4 separate regions of the Homo sapiens genome follow, and regions 1, 3 and 4 are each reported to be linked to region 2. The links are microRNA targets in miRTarBase. Many come from high-throughput screens and were not tested one by one. Region 2 holds a microRNA gene; each other region holds the end of a gene's coding sequence.
The links. The annotated mature microRNA hsa-miR-1303 reads UUUAGAGACGGGGUCUUGCUCU and lies in region 2 at 5,000-5,021, shown strand. An mRNA with a match to its seed (bases 2 to 7 or 8) in the 3' UTR can be bound and repressed. Matches are read on the target gene's strand: a 7mer-m8 pairs with bases 2 to 8, a 7mer-A1 pairs with bases 2 to 7 and ends in A, and an 8mer does both.

Region 1 (8,077 bases), not on the chromosome of region 2:
TGGTCTAAATCTTTGTAGAAATGAGTGCTTGAGCCTGTTTGTGTCGGTATGCCTCTGAGAAGTCTTCCCTCTTATATGTCTCTAGTTTTTGGAATGGAGCCTCGCATCCTATACAACCCTTTACAAGGCCAGAAATGTATTGTTCAAACAACTTCATGGTCCCAGTGCTCAAAGACCTGTGGAACTGGTATCTCCACACGAGTTACCAATGACAACCCTGAGTGCCGCCTTGTGAAAGAAACCCGGATTTGTGAGGTGCGGCCTTGTGGACAGCCAGTGTACAGCAGCCTGAAAGTAAGTTCCTTCAGGGACGTGTAGACTGTTGCCTGGCAGGTGGGTGGGATGTGAACATCTTTTTGAAGAAAGAGAAATATCACCCCTAACTTTCCTTCTCTCCTTTCTCTTACAGAAGGGCAAGAAATGCAGCAAGACCAAGAAATCCCCCGAACCAGTCAGGTTTACTTACGCTGGATGTTTGAGTGTGAAGAAATACCGGCCCAAGTACTGCGGTTCCTGCGTGGACGGCCGATGCTGCACGCCCCAGCTGACCAGGACTGTGAAGATGCGGTTCCGCTGCGAAGATGGGGAGACATTTTCCAAGAACGTCATGATGATCCAGTCCTGCAAATGCAACTACAACTGCCCGCATGCCAATGAAGCAGCGTTTCCCTTCTACAGGCTGTTCAATGACATTCACAAATTTAGGGACTAAATGCTACCTGGGTTTCCAGGGCACACCTAGACAAACAAGGGAGAAGAGTGTCAGAATCAGAATCATGGAGAAAATGGGCGGGGGTGGTGTGGGTGATGGGACTCATTGTAGAAAGGAAGCCTTGCTCATTCTTGAGGAGCATTAAGGTATTTCGAAACTGCCAAGGGTGCTGGTGCGGATGGACACTAATGCAGCCACGATTGGAGAATACTTTGCTTCATAGTATTGGAGCACATGTTACTGCTTCATTTTGGAGCTTGTGGAGTTGATGACTTTCTGTTTTCTGTTTGTAAATTATTTGCTAAGCATATTTTCTCTAGGCTTTTTTCCTTTTGGGGTTCTACAGTCGTAAAAGAGATAATAAGATTAGTTGGACAGTTTAAAGCTTTTATTCGTCCTTTGACAAAAGTAAATGGGAGGGCATTCCATCCCTTCCTGAAGGGGGACACTCCATGAGTGTCTGTGAGAGGCAGCTATCTGCACTCTAAACTGCAAACAGAAATCAGGTGTTTTAAGACTGAATGTTTTATTTATCAAAATGTAGCTTTTGGGGAGGGAGGGGAAATGTAATACTGGAATAATTTGTAAATGATTTTAATTTTATATTCAGTGAAAAGATTTTATTTATGGAATTAACCATTTAATAAAGAAATATTTACCTAATATCTGAGTGTATGCCATTCGGTATTTTTAGAGGTGCTCCAAAGTCATTAGGAACAACCTAGCTCACGTACTCAATTATTCAAACAGGACTTATTGGGATACAGCAGTGAATTAAGCTATTAAAATAAGATAATGATTGCTTTTATACCTTCAGTAGAGAAAAGTCTTTGCATATAAAGTAATGTTTAAAAAACATGTATTGAACACGACATTGTATGAAGCACAATAAAGATTCTGAAGCTAAATTTGTGATTTAAGAAAACAGCGCTTCATGTTCATCAGAATATAAAGCCTAAGGGTCTCCATCACTCTGTGAGATGGCTATAATAATTTATTATTTTAATCACCAGGTTAGTGGGCATGCCACTTTAGTAGAGTAGAGAAACCCTTTAATGAAAAGGGGTAGTCCATAACTCAGGCTGCCCACATCCAGACCCATGGGCAAGATTGAATATAATTAATGTATTCTAAAGACTTGCTTGTTTATAACTTTATATTTTCCCAATACCGTTCCTAAAAATTAGAACTACTTAGAAATTTACCCTTGGCTGTTATGAGGAAAAATCTGAGTCTATAGGAGTCAGTTTGTTTTCACTAAATGAGCTTGAAGCATGACTTGTGTTAATCCTAATAAGCCGGTGATTAGGTAAACATGCTGTTAAATGCAAAGGAATGCAAGGAATTTCAACTACTTTTCCAATAGCGTGAGGGCCAAGCTACCCCATCCCCCTTTCCTTTTTATAATATACGTTATATTGATGGGGGAGGGAGCAGTTATATAGAGTTGGCTATTCAGAAGGTCAAAGGTCCAGAGCATTCCTAAAAGAAAGGGACCCAAATCATAGGTCTAGGAGAGGTTGAGAAGGCTGTGTCAATGTTTGTGAAAATGTCAGTAGTCTGTTTCAGAAGCATCTTCATCTTTAGAAAGCGCTGACAATAAACCTTTTATAGGGAGAAGTTTTCCTTTCATCATCACTGTTGGCTCCTGTTCAAATCCATAGTGAAATATTTCAGTCCGCACTTAGTTAAGAGAGTACTTGAGTTTTTAGGCAGAAGAGAAAGTGCTTTTAAAAGGAATGGAGGAGGACAGCTCCTGGGATCCTGAAGGGATTTTTCCAAGTAGATTAAATAAGATCCATACTTTAATGAAGACCCACAGAAAAATACTGCCTAAGAAATGGTTTTAAAGCCTTATGGAAATGCATAGAGGTTAATATAAATGCACTAGTAAAATCTATGGCCAAAAGCCTTCACTTCTGATTTTGACTTGCCTGAAATATTACAGCTTGTGCCTTCTGAATAGTCAGGTTTCTTGCCTGAGACATTCAAATGTTAAGGTATTTGAGAATTTAAACATCAGCTGGCCCAGTCGTGGATGCAGTTAAACTTGTCAGTGCAATGTAACGTGTGAAACATAATAAAGGTGTGAGGCTTTTGTGGTGCAATCTTGTTGAACAGACATCTAAATCCATAGGCAAGATTTACACATTCCCAAGCATCAACCCTGAAGTATTGCTCTCCAACACTGGAGTCCAACAAATTGCTTCTTATGCAGAGATCAAGGAGCAATATTTTACAGATCCTTTCAGTGTGCAGGGAAGTAGTATTTGTCCAAATAAGCTCAAATGTGAAACAGAACCTAGTATGGGAAAACACTGAATCTTTGGGTTATTAATTTCATCCTAGTAAATATAATGAGGGTGATTGAAAGTGCCAATTCCATTTACAATAAGTGTGTTCAATTAATAAAGAAGATGAATACAAGCAAATTATGTCTTTTGTTTAGCTATAGAAAAACCTGAAGAAATTAAAAGTAGTGGAGAATAAAATTATGATATTTAGAACACGTAAGTTTTACCTACATCCAGAATGGAGCTCTGCCCACTTTAAATATTGAGAAAACAAACCAAAAATTATGCATCTGCATATATGAAATAGAAGTTACATATAGAAATATTCATTATAATATATATGTACCTTCCCATGCACAGTAAAGACCTTGGGTTGTTCTTGCTTTTCAATCCAAAAGATCCTGGTGGTCTTGAGCTATTTTTTGGTAGAGATTTTAGAACTGAGAGAGTGATCTCAGAATCTTAGGCATTCCACGAATTTTAAGAAATACTCTATGGGACATTGAGCAGCACAGCAAGTAGTCTCACTATGACTATTTTTTCATATGAACATATGTGTTGTCTGCTCCACAAAGAGATGCAACTGAGTCAAAATTAGCAAAGCATATTTTAGAGTTATGTTTTCCAACAGAGGGAACAGACTTGGTTTGTTCACAACCTCTTCTTGCAGCCTTCTGGCACTACTTGAAAGTCAGTTGAGCAATAGCAGTGGTTCAGTATGACCACAGTACAGAGCAAAGCTATGCTCTGGGCAGAATGGCAGGTGATACAGTGGAAAGAATCCCATGGAATCATGTCTTTTAGCACCAGCTCTGCCATGAATTCACTAGGTGACTCTGGGCAAGTTTCTGTTTCACTCCCTCATGTTAAAGTAGGAAAATAGCTTTCAGCATTTTTGTCACCCCAAAAACCCTTTCTCATACACCCACTTCGGTACATTGGCTCTCATACCTTAAAACTTTTATCTCCTCAAGTAACCACATGTGTGAACTGAAAACTGCTCAAGGCTTTCTGTCATCAAATGCACTTGTTTCCATGAAGCGTTTGAAAATGTATTGTGGCTAGACCCCTTCCCCCCCCTTTACTTTCTAAAGCACCCTTGGTTAGAGGACACAGCAATTCCTGGATCTCAGAGTCTACAGGTCCATACTTTAACCTCACTGTATAGCCCTATCCAGGCCTCATTAACTCCTTGCCCTACACAACTGATGCTTTAAAACAAAGCATATTCTGAAACATGACAATGATCCATTTGTCCTACAAATAGATTAGATATAGCTGTGACTTTCTCCATTGGTGGTGGGCAATATTCATCCATGTAATCTTATAAACTACAATTAATAAATACTCAGATGCATTTGTTACTGCTTTGCTGTTTCCATATATTCTGTTCATATATTCTGAATCTACCCCTTTCTCATCTCCAGAGCAAACCTCTAGATGAGACCACCATCATCCCTTGTCTGAATTACCAGAATGGCCTCCTCATTTATAGCATATTGTATTTTCCAAAGGTGGCTGCAGCAATATCTCCCACTCCATGTGCCCTTCTGCAATGTGCCTCTGTTGCTCCCCCATTAATGGGGGGGTCTATTTCTCCACCCTCTTGGATGTGGGTGAGCTCTTGACCTGTGAATGTGGAGGAAGCAATGCAATGTGGTACAAGTTCCACATGCAGTACTGGCTAGGAGTTCCTCCATCTTTTCTCTTAGAAATGAGCTTCCATGTAAGAAGTACAACTACTCTGAGACCAGCAGACTGTGAGAAGCTGAAGCCACATGGATAGGCCTTAGAGAATGAGTTGCCATGTGGAGAAAGAGAAAGGACCAGGAGCACTTGGGCATTACACCTGTCCATGAAGAAACCATCTTGGAAGTGAATCCTCCAGCCTCAGCCACCCCAGCTGATGTCTTGTGAATCAGAGATGAGCTGCCCAGCTGAGTCCTTCCCATAGTTCCTGACCCACGAAATAGTGGGCAAACCAATACGGTAATTATAAAGAAATAAGTTTTGGGTTTGTTTGTTACATAGCAATAGATAACCAAAATATCATTGGTTTCCATTCTTCCCCTTTTACATTTTTAAACTGACTCTTTAAAAATGTAAATCGGACTATATGGACCCTTGGGTTAAAGGCTCCAATGGTGTCCCACTGCTGTCAAAGTAGAGATTTAGCTTCTTACTTGGCACCCAGGTCCTGGACCCTGCCTACTTCTTACCATTCACCCTCATTCACTATACTTCCACTTGCCTTTTCTTCTTCTTTGAAAAAGCCAAGCAATTTCCCCTGCAGGGCCTTTGCACTAGCGTTCCTCTGCCTCAAATGCCCCTTCCCCTGACCTAGGCTTCTTCTTGGCATGTAGGTCTCAGCACAAATGCTACCTTCTTAGCAACCTTTCTTCACCACCCAGTCTAAATTATTAATAGTTCCTTACACCAAGAAGTTTTTTAAGGGGCAGAGCAAAAAGGTGGAATAAAAATCCCCAACAATCATCCCCACTGCAGGAACACCAAATTTAACAACTACCTACACAAAAAAGAACCTTTACAAGAACCAGAATTCAGATGAGCACTCACAACCAGTTTCTAACTTCATATCGTTGAAAGAGGCACTGAAGAGTGTAGGAAAGACAGTCTTGAATCACTGCCACCACCCCTCCCCCATTCTCTGGCAGCAGCCACATGGTGCAGAGAATCTGTGCTCTTGGGAGAGGGAGACTACAGCAACTAGGAGACTGCCTGGAACGCAGTGCTGCCCTGTCACAGCAGAGATGCCCACCTATGGAGGTAGCATTCAGACCTGTCCTAGCCAGAGGAGAATCACCCATCCCAGTGGTAAGAGCTGGAGTTCTGGCAAGCCTTACCACCATGGGCTGAAGTGCCTTGGGGACGTAAATAAACTTAAAAGGCAGTCTCGGCTGTAAGGACTGCAAGTCCTGGCACTGAGCTGGGCTCAGAGCAGGTGGATTTTAAGGGCATGTGACTTACTGAGATACCAGTTGGGGCAGCTAAGGGAGAGCTTGCATCACCCTTCCCCCAAACCCAGGCAGCACAGCTTGCGGCTCCAAAAGAGACCCCTACCTCCCACTTGAGGAGAAGAGAGGGAAGAATAAGGAGGACTTTGTCTTGCATCTTGGATACCAGCTCAGCCACAGTGGGATAGGGCACAGGTCACAGTTGTGAGGCCCCTATTCCAAGTTCTAGCTTGCCAACCACATTTCTAGACACATGTTGGGCCAGAAGGGAACCTGCTACCTTCAAGATAAGGACTCGGAGCTGGCAAGAACTGTTACCTGCTGACTAAAGAGCCCCCGGGCCCTGAATAACCAGCAGTGATACCCAGATAGAATGCTGTGGGCCTTGGGTGAGACTTTGAGATGTGATGACTTCAGGTAAGACTCAGCACATTTCCAGCTATTGTGACTATGATGAGAGACTCCTTCTGCTTGAGAAAAACAGATGAAAAAGCAAAGGGGACCTTGTATTGCATCACAGGTACCAGCTCAGCCACAGTGGAGTATAATACCAAGAGGGGTCTTGGGGCCCCAATTCCAGGCCTTGGGTCTTGAATGGCACTTCTGGACCTGCCCTGGGCCAGAGAAGAGCCCACTGGCCTGAAAGGTGAATCCCAGGCCTGGCACCATTCACCACTAGCTGACTGAAGAGCCCTTAGGCCTGAGAAGAATATCAGTGGTAGCTTGGCAATACTCCTCTTGGGTCCGTGGTGGTGGTGGCTACAGGGTGAGGCTCCTCTTCCTCTGAAAAGGGGATGGAAGAGTGGGAAGGACTGTGTCTCATGGTTTGAGTGCTAGCTTAGGCACTGTAGTGTAAAGCACCAGATAGACTTCTAAGGTTGTTGACTCGAGTCCCTGGATCCTGGATGGCATCTCTGGACCTTCCCAGGGCCTGGGGGAACTTGCTGCCCTGAAGGGAAGGACACAAACCTGGCTGCTTTACCACCTGCTGATTGTAGAGCCCTAGGGCTTTGACTCAACACAGATGGTACTAGGTAGTGGTTACAGGGGGCCTTGGGTGAGACCCAGTGCTGTGTTGTCTTCAAGTCTGACCTGGCACAGCTCCAGAGGTGGTGGCTGCAGGGGTGTTTGTGTCACCCTACCCCCCAAGCCCCAGGTGGCTCAGCACACACAGAGAGAGACTCCATTTGTTTGGGAGAAAGTAAGGGAAGATAACAAAAGTCTCTGCCTAGTAACCCAGAGAATTATCTGGATCTTATCCAAGACCAACAAGGTGGTACCTCTATGAGCCTGCAAGAACCACAGCATTCTTGGGGTTGGGGTGCCCCCTAATACAGATATGGCTTAGATCACAACACCCAAGTCCTTTTGAATACCTGGAAAGCCTTCCCAAGAAGGATAGGTGCAAACAAGCACAGACTGTGAAGAGTACAACAAATACCCAACTCTTCAATGCTCAGACAAAGCTGAACATCCACAAGCATCAAGACCATCCAGGAAAATATGACCTCACCAAACAAACTAAATAAGTCACCAGGGACCAATGCTGGAGAAACAGAGATATGTGACCTTTCAGACAGAAAATTCAAAATAGCTGTTTTGAGGAAATTCAAAATAACACAAAAAAGAAATTCAGAATTCTATTAAGTAAATTTAGCAAAGAGATTGAAATAATTAAAAAGAATCAAGCAGAAGTTCTGGAGTTGAAAAATGCAATTGGTATACTAAAGAATGTGTCAGAGTCTCTTAATAGCAGAATTGATCAAGCAGAAGAAAGAATTAGTGAGTTTGAAGATATGTGATATGGTTTGGGTCTGTGTCCCCACCCAAATCTCATCTTGTAGTTCCCATAATTCCCATGTGTTGTGGGAGGGACTTGGTGGGAGTTAACTGAATCAGGGGGTGGGTCTTTCCCATGCTGTTCTTGTGATAGTAAGTTTCATGAGATCTAATGGTTTTAAAAATGGGAGTTTCCCTGCACAAACTCTCTTCTCTTGTCTGCCACCATCTGAGACATGACTTTCACCTTCCACCATGATTGAGGCCTCCCCAGCCATGTGGAACTGTAAGTCCATTAAACCTCTTTCTTTTGCAAA
Region 2 (8,077 bases):
CCCGCAACGCTGAATTATCTGGCCCAAAACGTCAATAGTGGTTGAGAGGGCATGGGGCCTCAGAATCCAACAGGGGCATCACCAACAGGGCTTAATCTCCTGCTCCCCCTCTGTAAAACTGGGGATACCAAATTTCTGCCTCACAGAGCTGACCTATTGCCTGTTAAGTGCTTTCTGCAGGCAGGCTCATAGTAATGCTCCACCATTGTTGCCATGTTCATTACCAAGGATGTGCACTCTGCAGAAGAGCACTGACCAGGTAGACCCAGAGAAGGGCCATGAGAGAAACTGATCCAACGCTTGAGAGGGCGGAAGATGCCAGAAGAGGCCGTGATTACCCATTCTGGCATTCAGCGCTTTCCCTGGTCTTGTTTCAGCCTACTTTGCTTGCCTGGCCTCCGGCTGCTCTGGGTGGTCTATTCAGTGGGCCAGCACACATGCAACTTCTTCCTGTGTCTACCGTCCCCACCTCACAAGAACCTCTTCCTCCAAGGAGCCGCCTTGACCAGCCCAACCCTTAAGAATCACATAGCCCTTATCACAAATGGATCGACAGGGTGGCTACAGAGATGCTAGACACAATCATATCCATAAAGACTCTGAAAAACAGACATACATTCTCAATTATACACACAGACACACACATGCAACCTCAAGATGCCCTGTAGCCCTGGTCACAGACTGATCACAAATGTATTACCATACACATGCACACACACAAATATCCAAGCATAACACGATCTCAGACAGGAGTCCCGTATACACATACACATTTATACAATACTGGCACACACAAAAAACCCCCACACATACCCCCCAAGGATATGCTGTCACATTCACAAACTCATAAATTCACATAAATATGCATATTTAAAACAAACTCAGGAAAGCCCATAGGTCTTATACAGTTAACACCTAGGCATATAAAGATACACACCTGTCCATATACACAGAAATGTATTCTTGGCACACGACCTCATATACAGCTATTAATGTGCTTACATACATAAGGCATACATATATACACATTATTCAATGACACATACACTCCTATATATTCACCCAAACACACATATGTAACAGACATACAAAAAGACATTTAAAAAAATTCCATTTGTCCTCTTCTATACACACAGATGTACTCCCATAGTACATTTTATTCATTCATCATTTATATTACAAAACATTGCTAAGGAAACTTCCTTGGTGTGACTTCCAAATTCAACCTTGTGTTATAGCTACTTGTGTAGACTAGCAAAAATGCATCGAGTAGGCTCATTTCTCCCTTTAAATTTCCACTTGCGGATACGCCTTGTGGATTTGCTTTCTCCCCTGCAAGCCCTCACCTCTCTCTGTCCCCCTTTTTTTTTTTGAGACAGGGTTGCCCAGGCTGGAATGCAGTGGCACGATCTTGCCTCACTGTAGCCTCCGCCTCCCAGGTTCAAGTGATTCTCCTGCCTCAGCCTCCCAAGTAGCTGGGACTTCAGGCGCGCGCCACCACGCCCAGCTAATTTTTGTATTTTTAGTAGAGACGGGGTTTCGCCATGTTGGCCAGGCTGGTCTTGAACTCCTGACCTCAGGTGATCCGGCCGCCTCGGCCTCCCAAAGTGCTGGGATTGCAGGCGTGAGCCACCGCGCCCGGCCCCTCTGTCCCTTTTTGACTGCCCAGTCCCCCAGGCCTCCGCTGGAAGGCGCTCACTAAAGGTTCAGAGTCCGAAGCCGCATTCCCGGGCACCCTCCCCGGCCCCTCCCATCCCACAGAGGCAGGGGTGGGTCCGTGGGTGTGGCAATGAACCACGTGTACCCACGGGACTCTCGAAGTGGGGGAGGGGAAGGGGCGCAGCACGCCACCCTCCTTTCTCCGCCCCTGCCCTACCCTCTCCGCTGTTCCCCCACTGTCCTCCCCCAGCCCAGCCCAACCTCAGCCGGCCGCGGGAGGAGGCGGGAGCTGGGGCTTCGAACTGCCCCCTCCCACCTCCGCCTCTCCCCCGTCTCCTCTCCCCCTTTCCTCTTTCTCCTCCCCCATCCCACTTCTCTCTCCTTTTCCTCTTTCTTTCTCCCCTCCTCCCTCCATTCCACCCGCCTCCTTTTACCCCGCCCTGCCAGTCGTCCTCCCCCTCGCCCCCTCCGCCTCCCTCCAGCTCCGCCGCCAGAGGCTGAGTCATCGCTGCTGCGGCGCTGCCGGCCGTGCTGGGAGAGCAGGCGAGCAGGTAGGGAGGGTGTGAAGCAAGCGACGCCGTGCGACCCGGCACCACCGTCTGGGCCCTTTCCCGGAGAGGCCTGGGGAGGGGGCACCGAAAGGGGCCCGGGCCGCGGTGGGGGACGGGCGACGGGCCCCGGAAAGGCACAGATCTTACCCCTCAACCCCCATCCTTACAGGAGCCGCTTTGCAGCATTCTCAGCCGCACATGCAAATTAATACCTAACATTAGGGTGGCATCTGGGCCAGGCAAGTCAAACTGACGGCCCACGGACAGATCTGGCCGGCACCTGATATTTATTTGGCTCACACAGTGTTGTGTTTGTTTGTTCTGAAGTTTTAACTATTAATAGTTGCCAATACTTAAACATCACTCATTTCTTGGAAAATCAGATTCCCAACTCAAAAAATTAGAATATATGTCAACGTATTTCCCATGATAACTCTAGCCTATTTCTGAGTGGGGATACCTTTGTGTAGTCAGGGCATTGCACCCTCCCTACCTGCTCGCCCTCTAGTTTGCCACAGTCTCCGCTACTCCCTACTGTTTCACCTAGGCCACTGAACTTCCTTTGTGTTTCCTGCCAGGCCTCATATGGAATGATTCCTAGTCTAGTCCACCCCATTCATATTTTACATGGGGATTAGGAAGTGAGGGTAGGGCATTTCCCAAAGTCACATGTGGCCTTAAAGCTGAAGGGGAACCCTGCTTTTCCTCACCCACTAATCTTTTCTACCAAACCATTCTGACTCCTTTGGTATGCAGGCTAACATAGGGAATTCTTTTGTGAAAAGTGTGTTCCAGAAAATTATCTGGGGATCAGAGTAGACCTCAAATGGGAGATGATTTGGAGCATACAGCACCTCGTCTTTGGAGTTGATGGTAGCTTCTCACAGTCTTTCCCTTGGAGTGGAAATAGATGACAAAACTAGGGTGGATAGATGAATGGAACAGTTGGCCAATCTGGTATATTTGGTTATAAGAAGTTGTTTTCGGGTCATTGGAAACCTGGCTTATGAGACACTGTTGCATAAGGGCTACAAAGGCAATATGCCACTTTGCTTGGATTATTCTCTAGTCTAGTGCTTCTCAGCTCCTAATGTGTACATGATTCCTGTAAAGTGTAGATTCTGACGTGGCACGATGGCTCACACCTGTAATCCCAGCACTTTGGGAGGCCAAGGCAGGATAATTGCTTGAGCCCAGGAAATTTGAGACCAGCCTGGGCAACATGGTGAGATCCCTATCTCTACAAAAAAATTAAAAATTAGTTGGGCGTGGTGGCCTGTGCCAGCTACTTGGGAGGCTTAGGCAGGAGGATCCCTTGAACTCAGGAGGTGGGGACTATAGTAAGCTGTGTTTGTGCCCCTATACTCTAGCCTGGGCAACACAGTGAGACCCTTTCACACACACACACAAAAAAATTGTAGATTCTGATTCAGTAGGGCTGGATGGAACGAACCCAAGATCCTGCATTTCTGACAAACTTCCAGGTGATGCCAGTGTTGCAGGCCCCTAGACCCTCCTGCCTTTGAGTAGCAAGGGTGTGCACTCCTTGCGCTTCCGGTCTATTCATGGGTACCATTGCTGCATGACGGCCAAGAGAAGGGGTTTGAAGTCCCACAGTGGACTTCACAGTGGATCCCAGCCTACCCCTTAACAGTCAGCTAACCTTAGGCCAGCTGCTCATCCTCTCTGTGCCTCCATTTTTTCATCTGTTCCATTGAAATCAAATAATACTTCCTTAGGAGCATAAAAAAGGCAGAATGAATGTATGACCCCAGCACAGTCTGTGCCTCATGGCAGGCCCTCTGTAAAGATAGTTTCTACCATTGTGCACTCTCTCATGGGCAGTGAAACCCAGAAATGACGTGGTTAGGGAGTGGGATATGGAAGGGATATGGAAGGTATTTCAGGATAAGAATTGTACCCCTTGGCTGGGCGCGGTGGCTCATGCCTGTAATCTCAGCACTTTGTGAGGTGGAGGTGGGCAGATCACAAGGTCAGCAGTTCGACACCAGCCTGACCAACATGGTGAAACTTCGTCTCTACTGAAAATACAGAAATTAGCTGGGCATGGTGACGCGCACCTGTAATCCCAGCTACTAAGGAGGCTGAGGCAGGAGAATCACTTGAACCCGGAGGGTGGAGGTTGCAGTGAGCTGAGATCGCGCCACTGCACTCCAGCCTGGGTGACAGAGTGAGACAACATCTCAGAAAAAAAAAAAAAAGAATTGCACTCCTTAATGTGGCCTTCTGAGCCATGCAGGGTGGTCACTGCCCAGCCTACCCCTTAATGCTCTCCTACCTCTGTCCATGCTTCCACCACAACGGCCACCTATTAGGTCCTTTGGCCATGGTACCTTCTCCCCTCAGAGGCCTTGCACATGCTGTTCCTCATATTCCAAGCTGGCTGGCCCCTTCTTATCCTTCAGTCTCAGCTCCTATGTTACTTCCTTGGGGTGCCTTCCCTGATCTCAGAAGTCTAAGGGTTTAGCGTAGAAAGTGGGGAGCAGGGAACATCTCTTTGGGCTGCATGTACATAGGGAAGTCACCGTATCTACTTAGATTCTAAGTTTATTTAAAGCAGCTTTGGATAGGGGTGAACTAAACGCTGCCTCTGCTAGTCTATACGATGCCTTTGTGCAGATTAGAAAAAGGGGTCGGGCACAGTGGCTCGCACCTGTAATTCCAACACTTTGGGAGGCCAAGTGGGAGAAACACTTGAGGCCGGGAGTTTGAGATCAGGCTGGGCAACATAGCGAGACCTCAACTCTACAATTTTTTTTTTTTTAAATTTTAGAGACGGGGTCTTGCTCTGTTGCCAGGCTTTGTGCAGCATGTAAACTGTACAGCCCTAAGTGGGAGCCCTACTGCTAATGCTTCCCCAAGCTACCTCGTGATTCGGTTAATCCTCCTTTGCCTGGATTAAGTCTCTTTTATAAACTTTCTTAACCCCATAAAACTCATCACAATTGGGATTAGGTATCTAGGGAGTTATTTATTTAAAATCTGCCCCCTACACTAGACTGTACTGCATCAAGGCAAAGACATATCCATCTTGTTCTAGGCTGTATCACTAGTGCTTAGTACGGTTCCTGCACCATAGCAGGTGCTCCACAAATGTTTTCTGGATATTTCAGGAGCTCATTCTGTACCAGGAAAGCTAAGACTCTTACTGAAACAACTGTGGGCATAGGATGAGACAGGCACAGAGCTAAATGTGTGGTGCAGCCCCAGTGAGGGAGATGTCACTTCTGGCTGCGGGGATGCTCCGGAAGAGGTGGTGTTTTGGCTGGGTCTGACGGAACAGATGGAGTTCATTAGACTTAGATGGGTGGGGGAGTGTTCTTGGCATTGGGAATAGCAAAAGCAAAGGTGCAGAGGGAAAAAAGTTCAATGTGTTCCTAAGACAAGTCACAAATTGTGATCAGCAGAGTGGCCAAATATGTTTTGTGAATTACCTGCCAATATTTATTTTAAAATCAGGAGATTTCACATAAAGATCCAGATTTTCCAATTCTCTTGAAAAATCGAAAGGTCCCACCAGGTAGCAATAGACTGGCACTGAGAAGTGGCCGTTCGTTTTGAAGGTGTGGGCTTACTCCAGTTTGCCACAGTCCTTACCTTTCCCAATTGCATCACACCCAGCTCTCTTCACTCATTACTGTCCCTTTCTGGCTTTGGAGATGGCCGACAGACTGTTTGATTGGCACACATGGGAGTTGTAAGGAAGATTGGTTCAGATCCTACAGACCCTTAAATGCCAGCTAATTAAGTAACCTGGTAACTGCAGGGATTGCAGGGGTCTTCTCCAGTCCCATGGATCACTGTCCAAGTATCCCTTGGCAGAGCCATGCCTGACTTCAGAAGAAGGAACTTCAGGCCAAGAAGGCTGGTGAAGTTCTGGAAACCAAGGAAGCAGAGAGCTCTGCATGAGCCTTTCCTAGAGAGAAATCAGTCTCTGTCTCTCTTAGACCGACCCCTCAGTCACAGCATGGTGCTGTGATTTTGCCAAGAGGCAGGGGTGGGTCTGGGGGAAGATGGACGGTGCTTCCAAAAGGCTAAATTTTAGTCTCAAAGGTTTCTGATTGCGGACACATAGGTGATATCTAACTTGCTTTTGTTTAGCCTTGAATATTTTCAAATATAATCTTCAATATTTCTGTTACAATATTGTAGCTTGCTTCTGTTTATAAAAATAATGCAGCATTTGAAAAAAAATTGGAGAACATAGAAAAATAAAGATGAAGATAATAATCTGTAGTAATCTTCCCACCCAGATGTAACATGTTAACATGTTGGTGGATTTCCTTATGTTTATTTTTTTCAGTGTATTTATACTTTTGTGTGTTGTGTGTGTGTGTTTGTGAGACGGAGTCTCACTCTGTCACCTAGGCCGGAGTGCAGTGGCGTGATCTCGGCTCACTGCAAGCTCCGCCTCCTGGGTTCACACCATTCTCCTGCCTCAGCCTCCCTAGTAGCTGGGACTACAGGCACCCACCACCACACTCGGCTAATTTTTTGTATTTTTAGTGGAGACGGGGTTTCACCGTGTTAGCCGGGATGATCTCAATCTCCTGAACTCGTGATCTGCCTGCATCGGCCTCCCAAAGTGCTGGGATTACAGGCGTGAGCCACTGCGCCCGGCCTGTATTTATATATAAGTTGGGAGGCTGGGCACTCATGCCAGAGCTTTGGAAGGCGAAGGTGGCAGGAAAGTTTGAGGCTAGGAGTTCAAGACCAGCCAGGATAACACGAGAGAACCTGTCTCAACAAAAAAAATTTTTTAATTAGTCGAGCTGCAGCCAGCTCTGCCTCTTGTCAGGGCCTGGAGTCCTGGGTGAATCCTGCAGGTTTTTGGTTGCACTGGCCCAGGGAAGAAGTTGGGGTTTGTCAGGTGGGCTCTCCTGGGGGTCCTCTAGTGGCAGAAGTGAGTAGGGGATTATCCGAGGCATCTGGAGATGCATGTCCCTCAGTTTCCCTGTGCCTCCCTTTCTGAGTAGGTGTACAAATGAGTGACCTAGGCCAAGAAGTGAGTTGCCACAGTGAAATGGGTTGGTTTTTGTCTTTGATGCTTCGGGTCTGGGCCCCTTGCATTTGCAGCCTGTTGTGACAGACACAGGGAGCTCTATGTGCCAGCCTGTGGCTGCCCTGATGTTGGGTGTCCTGGGGGTGGCGAGGCTCCTGCAGTCTCATCCGGGGAGGGGGTGTGCTGTGCTGAGCACTCTATCCCTGAATATAGTTTATTTTTTCTACATTTGAATTCTGTTATAGATTTATGTAAAAATACATTCTCTTTTTGAAGAATGAAAAAGTTCACATCTTAAAAAAAAAATTAGCTGGGCAGGCCAGGCGAGGTGGGTCAAGCCTGCACTTGGGGAGGCTGAGTGGGCAGATCACGTGAGGCCAAGAGTTTGAAACCAGTCTGGCCAACATGGTGAAACCCTGTCTCTTTCTGGCTAAAAATACAAAAATTATCCAGGTGTGGTGGTGGATGCCGGTCATCCTAGCTACTTGGGAGGCTGAGGAGGAGAATCACTTGAACCCAGGAGGCAGAGGTTGCAGTGAGCCAAGATCACACCCCTGCACTCCAGCCTGGGCGGCAGAGGAAGACTCCATCTCAAAAAAAAAAAAAAAAAAAAAAATTAGCTAGGGCTAGTGGCACATGCCTGTAGTCCTAGCTACTTGGAAGGCTGAGGTAGGAGGATCTCTTGAGTCTGGAAGGTTGAGGCTGCAGTGAGCCATGAATGCATCACTTCATTCCAGCCTGGGTGACAGAATGAGACCCTGGTTCAAAAGTGAAATAAAACAACATTGGAAGCATATTTCTTTTGCCCTTGATTTGCCCTTTTTCACTTAACATTATATGGTGA
Region 3 (8,077 bases), not on the chromosome of region 2:
TATACAAAGCAAAACGTACATTTTTTAAGTATCTGGGGAAAAAAGGAGGTATCTGGGCAATTCAGGTCAAGTAAACTTTGTGGGGAGGAGGGAAAGCAATATATATAAATTCAGGATTTTGTGCTTCAATTACCTATACCAGCTTTGCTGATGTGGTAAGAAAGCACACATGCAGATACGGTTAGATATTTTTCCTAATTTTTTTCCACTTTCTTATTTCCTACATAGCTAAAGAATGCTTAATAGAATATAATTAAAAGGGTATATACCATCTTGCTTAATCAGGTGGGTTAGATCAACTTTCAAACAGGGGAAGAATTTGACTTGAGCCAGCAGCTGGAGTAGGCTCAGAACTGAATTTAATCAACCAAAAACCTAATGACCCATAATCAATGACATGGAATTACCACTAATAATTTTAGTGACAAGCTCATCACATTTACTCATGAATCACCTACAGTATTCCAAGCTCCCAAACTTCACAAAAAGTGAATTTCAGGTATCTGATCTTAAACACAGAAAGACCTATACACCCTTAAAAACCTACATGACCATAAAATGTAGGCCTTATGACTACAAGCATGGAGTATAAAATTTTGACACTAAGAAGTTCCAGGGAGGCAGGCCGGGCGCGGTGGCTCACGCCTGTAATCCCAACACTTTGGGAGGCCACGGTGGGAGGATCATGAGGTCAGGAGTTTGAGACCAGCCTGGCCAACATGGTGAAACCCCGTCTCTGCTAAAAAATACAAAAAATTAACCGGGCATGGTGGCGCGCACCTATAATCCCAGCTACTCGGGAGGCTGAGGCAGGAGAATCGCTTGAACCCAGGAGGCAGAGGTTGCAGTGAGTAGAGATCGCGCCACTGCACTCCACTTGGGCAACAAGAGTGAAACTCCGTCTCAAAAAAAAAAAAAAAATTCCAGGGAGAAAAAGACTACTTGCATTCAATGCCAACAGACAGTCTCCATAATATCACTACTATGAAAATGTATCGATACAAAACTACCACCACATTGTGGACTTAAAAGAAATTTGGATTTTAACAAGTTAAACTTAAGCTGAACTCACATCATTTATCATCAGGCAACCAGTATTCTCTAATATCAGGTATCACATTATAGTATAATTACTGAATAAAAGACAAGGAAGAATCCTGAAGATGAAATTTAAAAGTGAATTTCTGGATCTGTAAGAAAGGTGAATTTCCCAGTAAATGCAGGAGACTCCATGAGCAGTGCAAATTAGTCTGTTACACACCATTTTAAAACATATAATCCATACAGGAATTCCAACTGGTTAACAAATTCCATAAAGAAATGAAAGTTGTCTCTATGAAGAGGGCACAATGAAGCACCAGAAATATGATAACCATAAGCTTTATTTAACTATAATTTTCTATATTAACAAGCTCCTTTCCTATTTATCTAAATCAAATGGCTTTTATTCCACACCAATAACCTGCAAATATGACTGCCTTGGACTCACAACTCACCCCTAAGGAATCTGCCTTATGTTTGGAATCTTATTTTCACTGCATTAAAGCAGTACAGAAAAAACATTACCATATATATGACAAGGAATAAGAAGATTCACAAACGTAAGGATAGCATAAACTCATTGTTCAGGAATGTGATTGGTTACCCCATCTAACAGTCTGGTGAAAAGTGCCCAGGGAAATGAACACACAACACAGAAATACAGTCAGAAAATGAAGAGGTAGCCAATGTCCCGTTCCCACCCCCACAAAACTCCAGGATTTCTTGATAGAATGAATGTCTGCATTACTATTTTTTTTTTAAGATTTCTCTGTATTAAGGATTCCATAAACTCGTTATTCAGCTCATTCCAATGCCTGGCCCAACTGGATATACTACTAACTTAAGCCTAGGTGCAAATCAGTGTTTTGTTTTTGTTTTTGTTTTTGTTTTTGGAGACAGGGTCTGGCTCTGTCGTCCAGGTTGGAGCACACTGGCGCAAATCTCGGCTCACTGCAACTTCTGCCTCTCGGGCTCCAGTGATTCTCGTGCCTCAGCCTCCCGATCCGCTGGGACTACAGGGGCGCGCCACCATGCCCGGCTAATTTTTATTTTTTGTATTTTTGGTAGAGAAAAGGTTTCGCCATGTTGCCCAGGCTGGTCTCCAACTCCTGAGTTCAAGCGATCCGCCTGCCTCAGCATCCGAAAGTGCTGGGATTACAGATGTGAGCCACCACGCCAGGCCAAATTAGTATTATTCTTTTAAGAACCGAAGAAGGCTCAGGTTGAAAATTTTTAATTAAAAAAAAAAAAGAAAAAAGGTTTCCTTGTTTTTAAATATTTTAATGGAAACATATGAGTCAGATTTCAAAAAGTAGGCTAACGGTGTTTAAATACTGTGCCAGTGTATTTGAGAAGCTGAATGAAAACAAAAGTACCTATATTTTAAAAATAAATACAATACAAATAAGGAAAAGTTCATTCTACGATTTCAATTTATCAATCAAGCTACATGGTAAAGAGAATCATTTCAATTGTTTTTCACCTCCACAGCAGTGTTTGAGGTTGGTAGGCTCTCCCAGGAAGCTTGGAATCTTAAGCAACTCTCAATTAGCCCTCAATTTCTCTATTTTAAATTAATCTGCTGACCTGTTGTGGGTAAACATCCATAAATTCTGCCCTGGCTGAGAAACATTTAACTTTTTCGTCTAGGATGAATGTGTGGGTGTGTGTTTGTAAGGGAGGGGTAACTCCTTTTGACCAAAGTGTTGATGGTTTTCTAAGTAAATACTTGCTATCCACAAGAATTTTTTTTTTCGTTTATGCTGCTTTTTCTCCCTTTCTGCACTATAAAGGCTGGCCTTCCAATTCCTGCCCCGACCCTTCACCGTGATCCAATCCCACAAGGTTCCCCTAATTTCTGCTCCGGGTGGCACCTGACGGCCAAAAGTGAACCCCTGCGGTTGTCGCCAGCTAGACGCGGATAGGGCGGACGACTGTCACCGGGGAGCAGGCGTGGGCCAAAGCCGAGGTGATTTCTGACTGCTCACTGGCGGGCCTCGCGTGGCTGAAGGTCTCCGAGCCCCTCGGTTCGCCCCGGCAAGCCAGAAGTGCAGCTGTCGCGGGGCAGGAAGCTAATCGCGGCCCCTGCGCCGCTTTGACAGGCCGAGTGAAGAGAAAACGGGCTCACTGCAGCTAACAGCCTCACCCCTTGGGCTAGGAAGCCACGGAAGCAAAACCTCCGCCCCGGCCTGAAAGCAACCGGGAGACCGCGGAACCACTGCCACCGACTCAGCCCTGCCCAGCAGGGGCCCGCCCAGGGGCCACTCCCCAAGGGAGGCAGCCAGTCACTCGCCCGCCCTTCCGGGCCCACTCCCGAGGGGACGGTCTCCCGCCCGCCCTCACACACAGCTAGCTCTTCAGGCCAGGCCCCCAGGGTTTCGTCCACCTCTCACCTTTGACGACGCGGTCAGCCCCGGGAGGGGGCGGCGGGGGCGGGGGTGGGGGCGGTGCAGCCCGGGCCGGCTCCGGGGCGGCCATGCTGGGCCCGGGGCTCGGCTAGGCTCTGGGCCGGGCGGGGTTGGGGGCGGGGGCGGCGGCTACCAGAGCCAAGCGGCGGCGCCGCCGGGGAACATGGCGGACCCTCTTTCCCTACAGAGGGGCTAAGACCGGCATGCACTGCGCGTGCGGGGGTGGGGGCGGGGTAGGCTCTAGGGACTTGGGCAAAATTACTGAAGCTAGGAGAGAAACAGGACGAGGCCAAGGGATCAGGTTAAAATTCTTTGCATGCAGAATGAAGAATGAGGAGGTGCTGCGATCGAACGACTGCGAGGAAACACACCCGCTCTCATGGCATTCCCAGTAAACTGAGAAGACGTGATTAAACCTCAGGATCTCCTACTAATAGAGAAATGTATAACGATTTAGCTACCAGATCTGAATACTGAAGGGTTGGTAGGGGACCAGAGAATAGAGGAAGCATTGTAGGTTCTAGAGTGGAGAAGGGACCATCCAAAATGGAGTTTGAAAGAGAATTCTGGCCTTTGTGTTTAGAGTCTGGAATTGTCAAGAGTCTGAAAGCACAGAATAAGACTGCAGCTAGAGCAATTTAGGCGCCATAGTTTGTCAAAACAGGTAAGGGGAATAAAGGGGATGACACCAAGAGATGTGCAAAGAATCTGAAGAATTCACCTGAAAAGGATACAACCTCCTCCTGGAAGGCAGAGGAGTAAATAGGGAATTGGAAATTAATTCCTTATTTCTGCACATGCACAGAATCTGGGCCCAGGTGACTTATGGAACCTTTATAGAGACCACGGTGACTGACACTCATGGGAAAGGGGGTAGAGGGGCAAGAACTGACTGTTCATCAAAAATTATTAGATGAGTGTGTCCACGACACCAGGAGATATGTTGAATCATGGACAGGGACCAGCATATCCACTAAGCTCTATATATCTTGATGGTGCAGGATCCAAGTGGGATGGAACAACCAATTCCTGCCCATCCTCCTGCTCAATAATACATGTGCTCAGAATCTGTTCATAATGCATGGTGGTAAGTAAGTAGTAGTCCGAAGGTCCAAGGAGTACCTTTCTACCTCTTCTTTGTGTCAATTTCTATCCTGAGACCCCAGGAAAAGAGGAAGGGAAAGACCCAACAATGGATTTTTTCCAAAAAGGGAACCCACAAGCTATTTTTTAGAGGGAAGAGTCTCGGGAGTGAGGCACAGGTGAAAATGGATCTTTCTGGCATGGAAGGGCCATAACACCACAGGGGAAGGGAAAGGGAGAGGCCCCCACGGAAGGAGAGGAAGGAAGGGACAGGAGGCACGTCACAAACTTATAAGATAGAGGGAAGGCACCTGGAGTACATTGATCAGGAGTGAGTCTGTAAGAAGAGCTTGAATCCCCAGAAAATCTTCCTAAGGAGGGGAGGAAGGAAGTGTATAATGTACTGAGTACTGAATGCTCTGTCAGGAAAGGGATGGGAAACATCCTAGCAGCAATACTAGAAAGGAAAGGCACCCTATTTTAGGACCCATTGATTCCCACCTTGATTGTATATCCTTCAACTCGTCTCTGGCTCCTCACTTCCACTCAGTCAAAAGCCACTTCATATATTTATCCAGACTTCCAGCCCCAATACAAAGAAAGCAAGAGCATACAAAGGGAAGAATGACAAGGAATTAAATAGAACTGTCTTATAGATTTATTAATGAAAAATACTTTACAAAAACAGTATGTTTGGCCTAAAATAGTTCAGCTGACTCTGAGGGTTTACATTGACGACTGAGCAAGTGGCAATAATGGCTGTGTTATTGAGGACAGAAGGCTGTGTTAGTGTGCCTGACTCCATCTGTTCAAAAGGGTGAATGTTATGTTGGCAGCTCCGCATTCTAGGCCTAAGGTTTGGAGGGCACAGGGAATGCTGACAGGCCATAATACCTGGGCAGGGGGGCTGCCCTGATGATGTCATCAGAACCATGACCACAGGGCTACATGTCCCCCCAAGGATGGGAGACAGGGAAGACAAAGGGTCAGGTAATAGGGATAGGTGGATAAAACAAAGAGTAGAAGTTGGGAGTATAGTAGGGAACAGAGGATGAGGGCTCAGGTGGAGGTGGGGACATAAAGCATCCAGGAATAAAATGTGACCTTAAAATCCTAAGGAATGGCTAGTATCCAGAGTAATACCATGGATTCATCTTTAAAGTGGCTCAGATAAAACCCTTAAACAGCAGCTGCTTCCTTTTGCTAGGGGGAATGGAAGTTGGAATTTCAAATATCCCCTCCCAAAGAATCACATCTTTTTAGAGGTTCCTGACACCCTTAGGAGAACCCACCAATTCTATGTTGAGATGAGAATAGCACAACCATGGCAGTGATGCAGGGTACCAACGCTGCCACAGTAGTTTATTTTGTTGTTGTTTTGTTTTGTTTTTTGAGATGGAGTCTCACTCTATTGCCAAGCTGGAGTGCAGTGGTGCGATCTCGGCTCACTGCAACCTCTGCCTCCCGGGTTCAAGCAATTCTCCTGCCTCAGCCTTCCGAGTAGTTGGGACTACAGGCACGCACCGTCACGCCTGGCTAATTTTTTGTATTTTGGTAGAGACGGGGTTTCACCATGTTGGCCAGGATGGTCTCAATCTCCTGACCTCGTGATCCACCCGCCTCAGCCTCCCAAAGTGCTGGGATTACAGGTGTGAGCCACCGCGCCCGGCCCACAGTACAGTTTTACAAAGAAAGGTGTAGCTCCAGGAAAGGAAAGGAATAACCTTTACCATTGACTGTGCTGCAGGACTCTAGCCCTGATCTGCTCTCTTCTGGGAGCATCTGATAGAACAAACAGAAACCCCTCTCCCACTGTTCTCCTGTGTCCAGAGTGGGAGGCATAACTGCTTTGCCTCCAGTCATCATCTGGGGGCATATCTACTCTTCGAGGACCAGGGGTTCGGGACCCTGGAACAGGATCTGAATTCCAAGCTGACCTCAGGGGTACATGAAGACTGCTAGATGGTGGGTACACAGGATGAACAATGGGAGGGTGGGAGGGTGAATGGAAAAGATCACTCCAGGACTGAGTGTGAGGAACCTGAAGGCCCTTGCTTCTTTCTGGTAGTGTGGCAGTGTAGGTTAGTTGAGGATTGCACCCTGGAGTAGTCAGGAATCTGGTCCCAATATGCTGGTTGGTCTCTGACCAGGGTGCCCAGGAGTTGTCTGTTCTGGAGCGATGGGGGAGGCTCTGGTAGTTCAAAGTCCTTCCTGTGTACTTGGCCCCTTGGGAAGTTTCACCCCTGTCACACATAGCCAGAAACTGCTGGACACTCCTTGAAGTTCCTGGGGAAAGAAAAGAAACCCAAAGACTGAGCATCTTCAGAAAACCATTCTCCTTCCCAGAGAGCCATGCCTAGCTGTGTAGCCCAATTCCCTACTCCTCCAAGAGCATACATACAAGGGAAAGAATGAATCAAGCTGTGCTTTTGATTCCATTTCTTAAAATTCTTAATATACATCAAAATCAAATCTCATACCTCCAACCTGGGCAAATGAAACAGTCTCATGGATGTTGCCATACCTCTACCTCCCTCCACTATAATCTCTCATCCACTATACACACACCTACAAAAGAAGGGCTCCCTAATATATAGCAATATATGGCAAACGTATACTCCCTTTGTGATGACTATACTCCTAGAGCCACCATACCAAAACCTCACGCAGCTTTTCTTTTTAAAAAAAATAGAGACGGGATCTCACTGTGTTGCCCAGGCTGGTCTCGAACTGCTGGACTCAAGTCATCCTCCCATCTTGGCCTCCCAAAGTGCTGGAATTACAGGTGTGAGACGCTGTGCCTTGCTTTTTTTTTGTTTCTCCAACTTTTCTTAAAATGTTACCTTCACTTCAGTTAAGCTGCCTTTGTTTGATCTCTGAGATCTAATGTGGAATGCCTTTTCTTATACATTTATTCAACTTTGGCACTCTTGGTATCTTGGGCTGATAATTCTTTGTTGGGGTTGGGGAGAGACTGCCCTGTGCATTGTGTGATTTATTAATGAAAAATACTTTGCAAAAACAGTATGTTTGGCCTAAAATAGTTCAGCTGACTCTGAGGGTTTACAACAACAACTGAGCAAGTGACAATAATGGCTGTGCTGTTGAGGACATCCCTGGCCTCTACCCACTAGATACCGGTGGTACATCCCCTTTATCCATTGAGAACCACTGCCTCAAGCTTGTACATCCAGTGCATGAGGGGAAAAAAGAGAACATCTCACTCGGAAGGTCAAAGAAAGCCAAAATGATATTGCCCACCTTCCCCACAATTGTCTGGGTCTGTACACATGGTGTGGGTACTCCATGTAAAGGGTCTTTCCAATTCTCCCACTCATTCCTTATCTTCCTAGACCATCCCTCAGCTGAGACTCAGAGGATAGAAGGGGAGAAAACTAGCTCAGAGGATAGAAGGAGAGATGACCATTTCTGTTCTGGGGATGTCCCAAAGACTGGGTATTAACTCCCCTTTGTCAGTTAAAAGCTTATTCTGTCATGACTGAAGCAGGTCATTTTCGTAAGTAGACAGACTCTAGGGGTGCTGG
Region 4 (8,077 bases), not on the chromosome of region 2:
ACTTGTTTACAAGATAGCCTAGGGTTTTCCATCTATTTTTTTATCCAGAGGACCTCAGCTTACATCTCTCTATTAACATCTATGCCTAATGAGAGAAGGTTGCTTCCCTGTGACTTATACAAAATCAGTGACCAGCTGTGGCATTAATGGAAGAGGGGCCAGAATGCATCTCGGTAATATATCAGTGTTCTTTTTCTTGTAACTTAGTTTTTAAATTTCTCGCCCATGTATACCTTTCGAGGATCTCCAAAAGCCCATGTATATACTCCTTCCAAGTTTCTCTCACTGGCCATAGACCATTAACGCATCAAGAATGGAAAATGAAGGTAGCCATAGGCCAAAAAATACCTACTCCCTGAGTGCTCTGCATTCTGATCCAGGGATAGCAATGATCTCAATCAAAAGCAAATTCCTCGCAACTTCTCTAAGATCTCCTCTCCCTTCCTGTACAATATAGGACTATTCAGCTCTTAACTTGATGGAGAAGAAAAAATGAGGGCTTTGGTGATGAGTTGAATCCTCACTACAGTTTGTTAACTGTGTGAACCTTGATCATATCACCACCTCTGCATTTGTTTCTGTATCTATAAAACATGCATGATAACCCATGTAGAGCCATTGCAAGGATTAAAAACATTATAAGTAGGTCGAGTGCAGTGGCTCATGCCTGTAATCCCAGCATTTAGGGAGGCTGAGGCAGGAGGATTACTTGAAGCCAGGAGTTCAAGACCAGCCTGGACAACATAGTGAGACTCCATCTCTACAAAAAAAGTTAAAAAAATCAGATGGGGCTGGGCGCGGTAGCTCACGCCTGTAATCCCAGCACTTTGGGAGGTCAAGGCGGACGGATCACGAGGTCAAGAGATTGAGACCATTCTGGCCAAAATGGTGAAACCCTGTCTCTACTAAAAGTACAAAAATTAGCTGGGCGTGGTGGCGCTTGCTACCTGTAATCCCGGCTACTTGGGAGGCTGAGGCAAGAGAATTGCTTGAACCTGGGAGGCGGAGGTTGCAGTGAGCCGAAATCACACCACTGCACTCCAGCCTGACGACACAGCGAGACTCCATCTCAAAACAAAAACAAAAACAAATTCAGATGGATGTGGTGGTGTGTGCCTGTAGCCCTACCTACTCACGAGGCTGAGGCAGTAGGGTTGCTTGAGCTCAGGAGTTCAAGGTTTTAGTAAGCTATGATGGCACCACTGTATTACAGCCTTGGTGGCAGAACAAGACCCTGTCTAAAAAAAAAAAAACAGTATAAGTAAAATGCACTGTGCCTGGCTCATTGTAAGCACTTTGTAAATGATAGTTTTTATTAACATGCATTCATCAGTAAAAAGAGATTGTATAGGATTTCCAGAATGTTTTTTTTCCATTTTTATTCAGTGATTCAGGTGAAACCTGGGCTTTTGAGTCAGTTTGTATTCAAATCTCTGCTCTATCGTTTACTTGCTGTGTAACATTGGGCAAATGAACCTTTCTGTGCCTCAGTTACATCATCTGCAAAATAAGGAATATAACCTATCTTATAATGTTGTTTTCAATTCTAAAAGAATTATTTTTAGTACCTACTCTCTGCCAAGCATTAAGGTGCTAACAGTGTCTGCGTCTGAGGATTAAATGTAGAACTATATGAAGTACTCCCAACAATGTCCAGGCTTATGTTAAAAACTTAATAGATGGCTCAGACTTGATCTGTTTCTTAGAATGAGAGAATTAGTTATTTCTGGCTTTTATATAAAATGTTTAAATGTCTGTAATTTAGTATCTTGTTGCGTCTCTAATATTCCCAAGAGGCTCAAGGAGAGGAACTGTACAGCTATTTTCTGAATATACCTAGGCCCACTCTGATCCTCTGCTATTATTTTTCCAGTGTCACTGCAAAGATAAAAGCCATTGAAGCAAAACTGAAAATGATGGCGGAAAATCCTGATGCAGAGTATCCAGCAGCGCCTGTTTATTCCTACTTTAAGCCACCAGATAAAAAAAGGACTACTCCATATTCTAGAACAGCATGGAAATCTCGAAGATGATGGTTGTGAATTACTGTAGCAGCAAAAGCAAATTGGTCTCCACACCTAAAATCGTCTGCCTGTGTACTTTGTAGATGTGAATGGTACTATTCAACGGAGCACAATCACATGTTAGCATTTGGTAACATAATGTTTTTGGATGTTCTTATGGATGTTTCTTCCCTAAACTATGTATGGAATTGAGCATCATCCAGAATAAATAGCGTTGTATCCCAAATTGTGATTTGAACCCTGGGATGCTCTAATTGGCTGGTTGGTTTGGATTTGTAACTCCAGAAACATTCTATAGTGTGCCAGAGCAAAAGGCAAATACACAAAATATTATTTAAATCAGGAAACTAAAAATATTAACATCTATTAAAAAATTGAGCATTTTTCTACGCTCGTGTGTCTTTTACAACATAAAGAAAAAGTAAAAGGCAGGGAGGGAAGTGAGAGACAGATTTTAAATCATGTTCAGAACTGTTGTTCCAGAATTTACTACGGCAATCCCTCCAACTGGACTGAAAAAGAGAAAGTTCTTGGCAAAAAGGAGCTGATTCTTTGAACAAATGTTGTAGTAATCTGTTTAAGAATTATGCTTATTGTTTCAAAATCCCAACTAGGAAAACATGGTGTATATCTTAAAATTGTTTGTGTTGACAAAACTAGAATCAAATTTAACATTTTATACCACAACACAAGTTCTATTTGGAAATTGAACTTTTATTCTATAGCAACCATTTTTTTCAAATCTAAATAACCATGCCTTCTATAATAACAAATGTTGCTATTATCATGGGACTTTTAAAATTACATTTATTGCATGGGATTGTTTTTATAGCATGAGAATGTTCTGTTTGGAATTATATCATGGTCAGTCTAAATAGAAAAAGCAAAATTTCTTTGAAAACCTAAACATTGCTATATTGGTCACTATCAAACATACAATTTTCTAATAATTGTGTAGCGGTCTAAGTGGAAGAGATTGCATTATCTTGTGCAGGACGAGGAGAGGACATGCAGTGGGCACAGAAAGTCAATGGAACAGATGCCACTGTGGCACCAAGACTGTAATGACTCTGTGTGGTAGGTAGTTTTAAAGGACTGCATGCCTTGGAAATGATTCTTCACTTGGAGAACATACTTGCCTCTAGATATGTTTGTCACTCTAAGCATCCTGAATATAACAATAGAGAAAGATAAGTCAACCAACAGATTTAGGGATGTGTTTCTTCAGCACATTTTGGTCATTTTGATGCCAAGTTTGACATACTGTTTAATTGGGCAGCACCTTTGCTCCTTTACCAGGTATGTATCACTTTGTTACTCCAGGTGCCATTCTTGGTGATGACAGAATGTTTATCACTATCGTTGTTAGCAAGAGGAAGCTTTCAATATAGGAACTTAACATCTTCCCATGAGTATAAATGAATTTAAGACATTTGAATCAAAACTTCAGTAGAGGGAGGTTTTAGAATTCATAAAACTGGTTTAAGGAAATTCTTTTTACTTTTCCCAAGGTTAATCTTTTTAAATATCTCTAGACATCAAATACTTTCTGTATGTATTAGCTGTGTCTGTCTATGATGCAAGTAACTCTCCTCCTATTTGGGGGATAGTTCAGAGAGGTAGGAGCATTATCTCCCATTTTTCTGGTGACTTCTTGGAGTATAGAATTCACCATTTTATCCGTAAGTCTTCAAAGGATTATGGTGGACTAGAACTTACATAGTGCAAAATAGTCTTCTATTTTTAATAGGAACTTAGAAAAAACTTAGAATTATATATAGAGTTGTTTCCTTTAGAAACCAGAGCTATTTATTTGTATTTAAAGCACTGTTTATTATTTGTACTGATTCTTATCCCTCTGTGTGAATAAATGTAAGACGGTGTCCGTGTGGTTATATCTTCTCTCGTTCACTTACTGGCATAGACTGCAGTTCTCTGACAGGCTTGTTTCCACTCAGGACTCTGGCCAGCATGTCCACGTGGGGTGCTTCTTCTAAGTGCCTTCTCTGCAGAGGGTTCTGGCTAGAGAGTCAAACTGAGAGGCAACTCTCTTTACCCTTTATGCCTGCCTACCTCTGTTGTTAGAGATGAGAATAGAGACCAGCTGTTTCCATTGCAAATGTCACTATTTGAAAAGAAGTTGTTAATGGAAATCTCTGCAAGTATCGTACTGTGTTTAGTCTCTCGTGGTAGAGATTTCAAAAGAAGAAATGTATGTATCCTAAATATGCTGAAAGCAGTCTGATGAAAGGTTTTTAAATTTCAGGTGTTAACTTGGTCAACTCTTTGTTAGGAGGTTGTCTGTACTTTAAGTAAAATTATTCTTTGGTTTACTGGTTATTTTGGTTTGCTAAAATTATGTCACTTATAATTTTGATTTATATACAAGAGTGAAGAATTGAAGGAAATACTGAGGAGAGACGTATGAACTATTTTCTTCATCTCAATTCCTATTTTATCAAATGCAAAATGTAATCCTAACCAGTTGATTTTCTATAATTGGTATCTTAGTACTGGGGAGGAGTATCACATGAGGAAAGATTTTTCAAAGCATGTCAGCTGAGGCACAAGAATCGCTTGAACCCAGGAGGTAGAGGTTCCAGTGAGCCGAGATTGTGCCACTGCACTCCAGCCTGGGCAACAGAGTGAGACACCGTCTCAAAAAAAACAAAAACAAAACAGGTCAAAAATCAGTTGCACAAGTTGTATGAAACCAGGTATTCTGCAGCTCTGTCTCTTGTTTATTAAGATATGCACAGTTTCTGAATCAACAAATATATCTGTGATTCTTTTATACTACTACATAAAAGAACAGGAGTAATTCTTGCCTTATAAATTAAATGTCAAACATTTCCTATATGTAATCATTTGTTCCTAAAATATGATTTAGTCCCAGCATGCTTATCCCTGTTTTCTCTTTTTCTCTCCAGCTCCTATCTAGTTCTTCAACAAATCCTGTCAACTCTACCTTCCAAATGCCTCTTGAATCCAGCCATCTCACCACCTCCAACACTACCACCATTTTTCTTAAAGCCACCATCATCTCTTCCCTGGACTATTACAATACCTTCCTAATTATCTCCCTGCCTCTGCTATTGATTCTTTAGGGTCCGTTTTCCACACAGTAGCCAAAGCAATTTTTAAAAAAATTATTTTAAAATGTGATTCTCTTCTTTGTGGCTTTCCATCACAGCCTAGAAAAAATTGAAAGATCTGTAAGGCCCTAATGACCTGTCCTTCACTACGTGTCTGACCCTATAGCCTACTGTTCTCCCCTTGTGCGGTGTACTGCAGCCACGTTGGCCTTCTTGCTATTCTTTGAATACAAGGGAGCTTCTACTTCAAGGCATTTACATTGGCTGTTGCCTTAGCTTAGAACGCTCTTTCTCCAGATAGCCGCAGAGCCCGCTCTCTCACCTGACTCATGTCTCTGCTCAAATGTTAATGATCAAGAGGCAGTCCCCGGCCTCCCTCTTAAAATTACAACCTGTCACTCTCCAATCCTTTCCTCACGATTTTCTCAAAAGCACTTACCGCTAACCAACATTATATCTAAATTTTTTTTTGTCTCTTTTTATTGGAATGTAAGTTTCATGTAAGCAGGAACTGTATATCACTGCTATACCCTCAGCATTTAAAACAATGGCTGTACATCATACATACTCAATAAATATTTGTTGGATAAACTACAAGAATTCTGGTATTTGAGAGCCAAAGGGCCTTAAGAGACCATCTCATATAGCCCCCTCATTGTCCAGATGGGGAAAACGGGAACCCAGAGAGACAAAGCGATTTGGCCAGGGTCACCTGGTTAATGGGAGAGCTTTAGGTAGAACCCAGGCCTGCAAACATCTAGTCCAGTGTTCAGCAAACTGGCCTCTGCCTCCTAATTTTGTATAGCCTACAAGTTAAGAATGATTTTTTTTTCATTTTCGAGTGGTTGAGAAAAAAAGTAAACAAAATATATATACTATATTGTGACATGAAAATGATACGAAATTCAAATCTCAGTGTATGTTAATAACTATTAGAACACAACCATGCCCAGGCATTTACATGTGGCTGTTTTCCCCATATAATAGAAGAGTTGAATAGTTGGCAATGAAGACTGTGGCCTACAAAACCTGAAATATATACTATCGGTCCCTTTACAGGAAAAATTTGCCAAACCCTACTCTAAACAATATTCCATGACTGGAAATGTGTTTTCTAAAATTCTCGTATTAATGCAGAGAATAAAAGCAACAGATGTCAGAATGATGTGCACCGAATATTGTTTCTTAGTCAATGTCTCTGACCCCTTACACATCTTTTGGGATAGAGAACTGGCTGTGCCAGCCCTAGTGGCATCACTGTACTGCTTAAGGCTATCAATGTGGGCTAAATCCTCTCATTGTCCCTGTGAGGAAACTAAGGCCGTAAGAACTTGGGCTTCAGATTTAGACTTGTAGCCCCAGCTATGTAAGCAGATTTGTCAGGACTCCCAGCTCAAGTGACAAAAACACTACTCCAACTCCCTTGCGGTAGAACATGTATTGGTTCATGTAACTGAGAAGTCCAGGTGTTCAGTGAAATGGTTAGGATTCTGTCTATCTCTTGATTGTGTTTTCCTCTGGGTTGGTTTCATTCTCAAGCAGGCTCTTCCTTGTGGTCTCTGGAGAGACCTCTTGAATCCCAGGTTAAAAAGAAAAAAACAAAAACCCAAAAAAAACAGATCTGTCAGAATTTATCCGAGTACGCAGGTCTGTGTCTTCTTTCCTCTGCATTCAATCTTAAACTTGGCTAAGATTACTGATTATGCTGAATGACATTTAATTTTTACATGCCCTGTGACTTTTCTAAACTAGAAGCATAATTTTAAATTTTCACCTTAAAAAACAAGTTATGTGTTCCTCTTCTGAAAACAGGCCTATCCCATTTGAGAAGCTTTCTGGTGGGCGACCTCATCAGAAGGAAGGTTACTCATTCCTGAAACAGATGGCATTTGCCATGTGTGATGCGTGGAGGGTGTAAAGATGATGAGGCAGGAGCCCTGTGCACTGTGATGTACCGTGATAAAGGGACGACTCAGCAGCTTCAAGACACCAGAGGATGGGAACCAGGCTGGGAATGGGACATGGTGACATAGGTGATTTCCCCCCGAGCTGAGCGGCCAAACGATGTTTAATAAGCTGCGTAAACGGTTTAAGGGGGACGTTGAACAAAGAACAAAGCCCCAAAGTGAGAGATATTAAGATTTAATCTAAGTAAGGAGTTAAGATACTTCCAAATACCTAGAACCATAGGATAAGCCAGGTTTATGAGGCCTTCTACAAATCAGTCCCACTAGGCATTCTCCTAACCAGACTAAACTATTTGTGCACCCTAAACATGATGGACTCTCCTGGATTCCCCTGTCCTTGTACAAGATGTGCCTTCTACCTGGGAAGTCCCTTCTGCCCACCCCCACCACTTGTCTAACAGATATTTTCCCACCCATGCTCATTCCTATAAGGCAGTTAATTGCCTTTCTGCGTCTTAACGACCTGGGTCTGTTTTAGCACTTATCACTACATATAATGTGCTTTATAATTTAAAAAACGATTCTCACCAAAAGTAAGATGAGTTTCAGGGGCAAATTACCTCCCAGAAAGCAAACAAGCCAACTCTCTTCTCATAGATGGGGTAAATTCCAGCTGCTGTAAAATCTCCACTTCCAAGGCTTCCGCTGCTATCCCTACCCTGATATCTCTGAAATTCCTTCTCTTAGATCCAGGCTCTCTTCTGAGCTGCAGAGCCATATGTCCCGTTCACTCCTGGGCACTTCCACTTGAATATTCCCTTGGTACATTGACTCAAAACCGAGCTCATGGATCCCTCTTGCCCTTCCTCAATTGCTCCCATGTTCTGTGTCACTGGGAAAAATAAAATAAACTATTAGAAACCTGAGAGTTATCTTGAACATTTTCCACTCCCCCACTCCCTATATCCAGTCTCCTAAATGTTATATAGCTGATGATATCATATATGATACATTTGTATGTATTTATACCATATATACTACATATATATGA

Region 1: miRTarBase lists CCN1 as a target of hsa-miR-1303. Seed matches in the 3' UTR shown: 7mer-A1 at 1,195-1,201.
Region 3: the mRNA of USP54 is a reported target of hsa-miR-1303. Seed matches in the 3' UTR shown: 7mer-A1 at 5,791-5,797.
Region 4: the mRNA of RBM18 is a reported target of hsa-miR-1303. Seed matches in the 3' UTR shown: 7mer-A1 at 6,199-6,205.

Annotation. Positions count from the first base shown.
Region 1 is chr1:85,582,331-85,590,407 of GRCh38, forward strand. It overlaps CCN1 (cellular communication network factor 1), which reads left to right. Exons shown (of 5, transcript NM_001554.5): 4 at 86-294; 5 at 410-1,620. The coding sequence ends at 712. Among named protein-coding and RNA genes, the nearest start is that of CCN1, 5.6 kb to the left of the region's middle. RefSeq lists an enhancer at 1-89.
Region 2 is chr5:154,680,828-154,688,904 of GRCh38, forward strand. It overlaps MIR1303 (microRNA 1303), which reads left to right and starts at 4,949; the gene lies at 4,949-5,034. It also overlaps a transcript of LARP1 not described here. RefSeq lists silencers at 1,722-1,921, 1,962-2,441.
Region 3 is chr10:73,492,371-73,500,447 of GRCh38, forward strand. USP54 (ubiquitin specific peptidase 54) reads right to left here. Exons shown (of 24, transcript NM_001391956.1): 24 at 5,168-6,818. The coding sequence ends at 6,259. It overlaps PPP3CB (protein phosphatase 3 catalytic subunit beta), which reads right to left and starts at 3,654. Exons shown (of 14, transcript NM_021132.4): 1 at 3,435-3,654. The coding sequence starts at 3,519. It overlaps PPP3CB-AS1 (PPP3CB antisense RNA 1), which reads left to right and starts at 3,382. Exons shown (of 5, transcript NR_132104.1): 1 at 3,382-3,447; 2 at 3,772-4,113; 3 at 7,225-7,317. RefSeq lists enhancers at 2,721-3,180, 3,671-3,860 and a silencer at 3,241-3,590.
Region 4 is chr9:122,235,840-122,243,916 of GRCh38, reverse strand. It overlaps RBM18 (RNA binding motif protein 18), which reads left to right. Exons shown (of 6, transcript NM_033117.4): 6 at 1,874-6,295. The coding sequence ends at 2,033. Among named protein-coding and RNA genes, the nearest start is that of LHX6, 11 kb to the right of the region's middle. RefSeq lists a silencer at 6,381-6,581.